Homo sapiens: one gene and its partner. The protein of the gene in region 1 interacts with the protein of each later gene in a pairwise test. Each region holds a gene or a part of one and is shown on either strand. Other genes may lie near its edges.

What was found. Proteins that work in one complex are often made in the same cells at the same time.
Region 2: the proteins of CBY2 (region 1) and HSF2BP interact in binary tests that used the Homo sapiens proteins (3 or more experiments, as listed by UniProt).

The regions. Positions count from the first base shown.
Region 1 is NC_000013.11:45,700,591-45,704,338, reverse strand, and holds the start of CBY2 (protein chibby homolog 2), read right to left. Parts: upstream 2,020-3,748; 5' UTR 1,949-2,019; coding exon 1,874-1,948; exon of another isoform or gene 1,824-1,873; intron 1,565-1,823; coding exon 1,484-1,564; intron 829-1,483; coding exon of another isoform or gene 748-828; intron 1-747.
Region 2 is NC_000021.9:43,610,837-43,614,584, reverse strand, and holds part of HSF2BP (heat shock factor 2-binding protein), read left to right. Parts: intron 1-637; coding exon 638-755; intron 756-3,748. UniProt on the Homo sapiens protein: Meiotic recombination factor component of recombination bridges involved in meiotic double-strand break repair.

The sequences.
Region 1 (3,748 bases):
GACCCCAGCAGCAGCACCAGGTCCTCCAGCACAGGAAGCAGGCAGCCCCAAGACAAGCTTGAGCTGTCTTAAACCACCTTCTCTTCTCCTTGATCGTTGGGCTGTTTCTGGGAGCTGGGGAGGGAAAGTTGCGGTGGGTGTTGATGGAAACATCATTCCAATTTCTCTATCACATGACCACTACTCTTTCAAATCCTACCCCCTCCTTCACACCCACCCCTAGGTTGGCATCCTCTGCCTGACCAAGTTTCTTAAACACCAACTTTGCTAACATTACCGAGGGTTACTATCAGAGAACATTCAGCCATCTGAGGTACTTTCAAAGCATGTAAAGTTGAGGGGCCCCAGGATTCTGGAAGAAAAGATTGGTTTATATGGGCTATGAGGAATCACAGCAGTAACACCCACTCTTGGGGGAGTAGTGGCTAACACAACTCCCTGCGTATTTCAGGTGGAAAGAATCAGGCCCAAAAAGATTCCTACAGCTTGTTATCTTGTTGAATGATCAGGGGGAAGTTATCTTATATTCTGGCTAAGATTCATGGGCTAAAAGTAACAGAAAAGTGACTGTTCATTACAAAGTTATAAAGATAATGTGAAAATAAACATCCAGGATGTTTTCTTCTTCCATATTTTTGCCTCCCGCTGAACATACTTGCCTAGATTGTTACAATTATATATATGGAATGCCCACCAGTGGTCAATCCTCCTCCTACACATCCCTGGACAGAGCTCTCAGATAGTTACCTCTGCATTGGATTCCTCCATCCTACATTTCAACCCCTCTGGTTGCATGGCCCTGGTCTTCCAATGAGGACTTAGGTGACTCTGGAGAAAGCAAAGCCACCCCTTTGTGACATAGCAGCAGTAGAAACAATTCAATCAAGAGGACTCCACTAAGGAAACAGCTGATTGCAGGCAGGAGGAGACCTGAGACTCTATAGCCTGTGAGGACTTCACCAATTCATTGACTGAAAAAGCATCTATGCCCATGGCCCCTACATCTGTCTTTGATGCATAGCAGGGCTTAATTCTCTTGACAGCTCCAAATAACTCTGTACCCCTTTGTCCACGGATGAGGTTTTCTTCTCATGGATTCATTCTTATGCATTTGATTTCAAGTCCCAGTTCTAATTCTCCCCCAGAAATCCAGAGTGATTGCACAACACTAAGCACCAAAAGATCTCGTTTTGAGAAGGCTGGGTTACTTCAGTGTATCATAGAAACTTGGAATGTTAGGACTGGAAGTTCTTACCAGATCATCTGACCCAGCCACCTCATTCATGGGAAAAAGAACCCAAGGCCCAGAGGGGCTATGTGGCCTTCCCCAGCACACCGCCTGCTGGCACCCAACCCAAACTATAATCTGAAGCCCTGACTATCTCTGCTTATTCTACAACATCTTGCTAGAGTTTTGAAGGAGGAGATGGGGGGTTATTCTGGCTAACACTGATAGGTTACATCCTTCTGTGATTATCCCTACCTGAGGTAGAACCACACTGATTGGAATTTCTAGGCTTTCAGATCTGGTATCTCTTTTTCTTGTATAATTTGGCCTTGAGTGCTGTGGAAACGAGAAAAGAAGAAGATTACTGCTTCCCAGCTCATCCTCTGGGCCTCAATTGCTCGCCTAAAAAACACAGAACTTTCTACTCATTTATTTCTCTCTTGTCAATTATGTACAATTATGAAAGTCTGAGTCTGAAAGAACGTGTAGATGATATCTGGCATGATGGTTTATCAATCTCTGAACAGATATTAAGCTAGATATTATAGTTGATGTAAAAGGCTTTTGAAAGTTTTTGAAGTGGAGATAGCTGTACCTGCTTCCCTGTCTAAGATGATTATTTCTATCTCAAGTAAAAAGCCATACCAATGTGAGTTGCCAGGTATAGGTCCTATGCAGAAGTTGGTCACCAAAACACTCAGAACATTCCAGAGGTGACATCACAAAACAATATGGTGTTTTTCAGGGCTCATGGTTTCTCTCTGAGCATCACAGGTGGGAATGAGGCATCTGACAGGCAGGAAGAGCTTGTGGGTGCTGTGACTACTTGGCTGGTCAGGGTCAGTGTGACACACACAATAGCCCAAACATTAGCCCCCTGTTGGGTCATTCCAGCTGCCATTCGTATTCTCACTGCCAGGCTAAGTTGAGATCCCTATTCTCTCTCCAGAAGTGGCATCTTCTTGGAGTTGGGTCACTCAAGAAGAAAGAAACACAAACTGAACTCTTCCCATACCAAGGGAGAAAGTGTAGTCTGAGGTGTTTTCTGACACTACTCAATTCCTTAATTCTCTGACACCAACTGTGTGCCCTACAATTCAATTTCATCCTGATGCTATCTACCAGAGTTAGTGTTACAGAGCTGAAGCGGCTCACTACCCAATGCAATAGAAGCCAATACTAAAACACTAAGTTCTTTAAAAAAGAAAAACTTGTATATTGAAAGTCAACTCCCAAGGAGACAAGAGTCAAGCTCAAATCTGTCTCTCTGTGCTGACATTAAGGTAGTATTTTTATTAGAAAAGATTCAGGGGGTGGATTCTGAGATTAGTAGGTGATTGGTGGATGGAAATGGGAGGTCTGGAAAGTCCCAAAGAGTAAGAAACCAGTTACTTAATTTTTGAGTTTCAAGATAGCAGATAAGAAAAGAAACTTAAGCCGCTGAAACTCCCTCCACTTGTGAGATCAAGAAAAACCTGGCTGAAACTGGTTGGAACCAAGATGGCTAACTGGAGCTTGCACAGAATAAGCTTGCTGATGTCATAGCCTGAATTTCCACCACGTTTCATACTAACTCTCCCTGAATTTGCCATGCAACTCAGGAGTTAACATGAAGAAATAACTATGCATGCCCAAGGACTTTCCAGACCTCCCTTTTCCTTGCACAAATCACCTACTAATCTCAGAATCCACCCCCTGAACCTTTTCTAATAAAAGTACTGCCTTAATGCCAGCAGAAAGAGACAAATTTGAGCTTGACTCCTGTCTCCTTCAGAGGTGACTTTTAATATAAAGCTTTTCTTTTTTTCAAAAATTTGGTGTCAGTGTTGGCTTCTAGCACATTGGGCAGTGAGCCCCTTTTGCTTGTTAACAAACTAGAACCCCAGGTGAGACGAACAGCCTGTCCAAGGTACTGTTGCCCCTAGTGGTGTGCAGGCCCCCTGCACTGATCCTGAGTGGCCACCTAGACCAGGGTGTCCAGAGGCTCGACTATAGGGTTCCTTCTTCTCCACCATGGCACTTCAGGCTCCCTTGGCACTTCTCTTTTGGGAAAATAAATTGCTTCTGGATTAGACATCTTTCTGGTGAGTACCTTGTTAATATGCCCCTGTACTTTTAATTGTCTTTGAACTCATCATAACGACTGTGGGTTCAAGTCCCACCCTGTGGTTTAGGATTATGGATGAGAGTCCCAACCTTGTCTAGGATTGTGGATTTGAGTCCTACCCAAGGGGGATTCTGGTCAGTTCAGAGTCCCAAATCTGGTGTATGTTTAAGTCCCAAAGAATTAAGGCAATACTAAAAAGCTACAGCCACTAAGATAATCTAGTCTGGTTCTGATTTTTGTTGGTCTGTCTGTATTTTTGGTCTGTGTAGCAATATTTGGCTTAACAGAGGTCAAAGACTGTGATGGCTACAGCAGAAGCCTTATGAGATCTCCAGACTCCTGCACACTCAATTAGAACAAAGCAACTCCATAAACTAGAAAACCTGAAGAAAAATGGCACATGTAAAACATTT
Region 2 (3,748 bases), on another chromosome or scaffold:
TCAGCCCCCACCTTATGTTTGGACCCTGACTGCCCACAGCTGTTTAATGCAGCACTCTGGAGCATAGTGACCGCAGACTTGGTTAGATTCCAGGGCTCTGTTTCACTCTTTCGGCGCTTGCTAATCACACTGCACATTACTTGATATTTCAGTAACTCTTGTGGTTGTCAGTGATTCTTTCTGAGCTGTCATTTTTGTTGATAATTTTTTTTTTTTTTTTTTGAGACAGGGCTTTGCTCTGTCACCCAGGCTGGAGTGCAGTGTCATGATCATGGCTCACTGCAGCCTCTACCTCCTAGGCTCAAGCAATCCTTCTGCCTCTACCTCCTGAATAGCTAGGACTACAGGTGCACACACCGTGCCCGGCTAATTTTTAAATTTTTTGTAGAGATAGGGTCTTGCTGTGTTGCCCAGGCTGGTCTTGAACTTGTGGCCTCAAGCAGTCCTCCCACCTCAGTCTCTCAAAATGTTGGGATTACAGGTGTGAACAACCATGCCTAGCAATTTCATTTATAAATGCCTCATTTTCAGCTGTGTTTTCATTAGGTCTTTTAGGAGAAAATACTCTGTTCTGCACAAAATTGTCTAGGTTCTGAGTCATAATGATCTTGATGTTTTGTTTCATTTTCTGTTGCAGATGTTGCTGCTATAGCATGTGGTCGTGAATTCTTGGTTAATTCAAGCCGGGTGCTCTTGGACACCATATTGCAGCTTCTGGGAGACTTGAAGCCAGGACAGTGTACCAAACTCAAAGTGTATGGTGGATAATGTTAAAAAGTTAATTCTATTTACATATTAATTAGACTGTGCTGATTGGGCCTCTCTTCAAGTAAACACAGTTAATTTTGGTGGTAGTTTTAAAAACTAGAAGAAATAAATTCCTGGAGAAGTTAAGGGCGTGCACTGTCTCTTAAATAGCATTTTAGAAAATAAATTTAAGGAAGGAATGTTCTCACCTTAGAGCAATCAGTGAGTCCCAGTATTATCACATGGTACTTCATGGGTATGTCAAAATGAATTTAAATAGGTATCTGTCTTCCAGCTACTAAAATCTGTATTTGTTTTCTATTTTTATGTAACAAATTATCACCAACTTGGTGGCTAAAACAACACCATTTATTATTTCATAGTTTGGCAAGTCAGAAGTCTGAGTGGGTTTGAGAGGTTCTCTGCATAGGTCAAAAGTGAGGTGTTTTCCAGGGTGGGATCTTTTCAGAGAATCTAGGGGAGGAATCTGCTTCTGGGCACTTTGAAGTGGCTGGTAGAGTCCAGTGTCTTGGTTTCTAGGAGCGAGTTCCCTGTTTCCCAGCTGGCTGGTCAGCTGTGGGTCAGCTGCTGAGGCAGCTTGCATTGCTTCTCACAGGGACCCCATCTTCAAGCCACAGTCGCTCATTGAATCCTTCCCACGTTTCCAGTCTCTGAGACTTCCTCTTCTGCTACCAGCAAGATGAAACTCTCTCTGCTTTTATTCTTTTGTTAAAAAGTTTACTTCAAGAAGGCAAAAACTCTGCTTCTTATAGATTTGTGTGTTTAGATGAGGCATACCTGGATAAACTCCTTTTGATTAACTCTTGAGTCAGCTGGTTAGTAACCTTAATTACATCTACAGAATCCTCTTTTCCAGGCAATGACATAATCAGCGTGTGATAATTTATAGTCCCAGAGATTAGGGCAGGAAATCTTGGGGAGAGGGGCAGTGTAGGATTCTGCCACTCACACTGTTCGTTCTGAGTGTTGCCTTTGACTTCTTAGAGCATCTTTATTTTTTAATTATTTTTTTAAAGAGACCGAGTCTCTACAGACCTTGCCTAGGCTGGCCTCAAACTCCTAGGCGTTCAAATAATCCTTCCACCTCAGCCTCCTGAGTAGCTGGGACTACAGGCATGTGCCACCATCCCCTGCTGTGGAGCACTTTTTTTTTTTTTTTTTTTTTTGAGACGGAGTCTTGCTCTGTCACCCGGGCTGGAGTGCAGTGGCGTGATCTCGGCTCACTGCAAGCTCCGCCTCCCGGGTTCACACCATTCTCCTGCCTCAGCCTTCCAAGTAGCTGGGACTACAGGCGCCCGCCACCACGCCCAGCTAATTTTTTGTATTTTTAGTAGAGACGGGGTTTCACCGTGTTAGCCAGGATGGTCTCAATCTCCTGACCTCGTGATCCACCCGCCTTGGCCTCCCAAAGTGCTGGGATTACAGGCGTGAGCCCCTGCGCCCGGCCTAGCACTTTTAAAAAGTAAGAGCTTCTGTAAAGTCTGTGCCAGGTGCTTCCAACACCTGTGTCATCCTGGCCTCGGTGTCTCTTGATTGTTTTTTCCCATGAGAGTTGAGATTTTCCTGTTTCTTCATATGCCAAGTAATTTTGGATTTATCCTGGACATTTACGTGATCACTGGTCTTGTTTAAATCCTTGGGAAATGCTGGTGTTTATATTTTCACAGGCAGTCAACCCCTTTGGGTCAGATTCCAGCCAGCCTTTTCTCTGTTTGGTTTCAGTGTGTCGTCCTGTTTTCAGAGTCTTTACAGTGCTATTGGAACTGCCCCTCGTGAGTGCCGCCCAGTGGCCAGTCTGAGACCTGGGTGGTCTGGATCTTAGGTTCAGAGTCTTTCAGATACTGTTTATGATCAGATCCACACAGGCACAACTTGGGATGAGGCCAGGAATTTATAAACAACTTTTTGGGGTCACTTTTCTGAGCTGTTAACTCTCTGGGTACACTTTAGTTACCTGGGACTGCCTTTTTCAGTCCCCCACCTGGAATGCTGGGGCTTCATATACCCTGCTGTGTCCAAGTGCCTGCAACTCTGCCCTCATCCCGCCCTGCGGCAGGAGTTGAGAAGCTCTTAGAGCTTTCAGGTGTAAGGAAAAAATTCCTTTCCCCCAGAGTTTGAGTTACCTGGGGGATGTCCCCACTGCTACCGTGCTTGGTTGCTGGCAGGAGACCCCTTTCCCACTCCTTGAGCCTCACTAGAGACCTTCTCCTGGTGCTCTCTGTGTGGCTCAGGGCTACTTTTGGGTTTTGGAGCTCCCTCGAGTCCAGGCCAGGGACACTAAAGGAAAAAGTGGTAAACTCTCTGCTGGTTTAGTGGTTCTTAAAATTTTGATCTTCTTCCCCTATCTGCCTGCTACTGTTTACTTTTCAGAGTCCTCAAATAGCTGCTTCATGTATTCTCTTTGGAATTTATAGCTGCATTCAGTGGAAGCGAGACTGGAGGGTGTGTTCAGGCCATCTTATCCAGAACCAAGCTTTCTAGTCCATTTTAATATTTTGTGCTAACAAATATCTATACATACATAATACATATAATACAGTGTAACATATATGCAAAAAAAATTTTTTTTTTGAGACAGAGTCTTGCTTTGTAACCCAGGCTGGAGCACAGTGGTATGAACATGGCTCACTGCAGCCTCGACCTCTTAGGCTTAAGTTATCCTCCCAGCTCAGCCTTCTGAGCAGCTGGGACCGTCAGTGCATGCCACCATGCCTGGCTAATTGTTAAATTTTAAAAATTTTTTTGTAGAGACGGGGTCTCTCCATGTTGCCCAGGCTGGCATAGATGGTTTTGTTTGGGGGTATAATTTTACAAATTGCTTGTGGATCTAGTTCATTCCTTTTAAGTACCTTGCATCAAAGGAGATGTAATATTTGGATTATCCTTCCCTGACTGATGGGCATTTAAGTTACTTTCGGGTTTTACTTGACAAATATAATGCCGTAGTGAGCATCCTTGATAAACTCTTTGCTAACCTGTC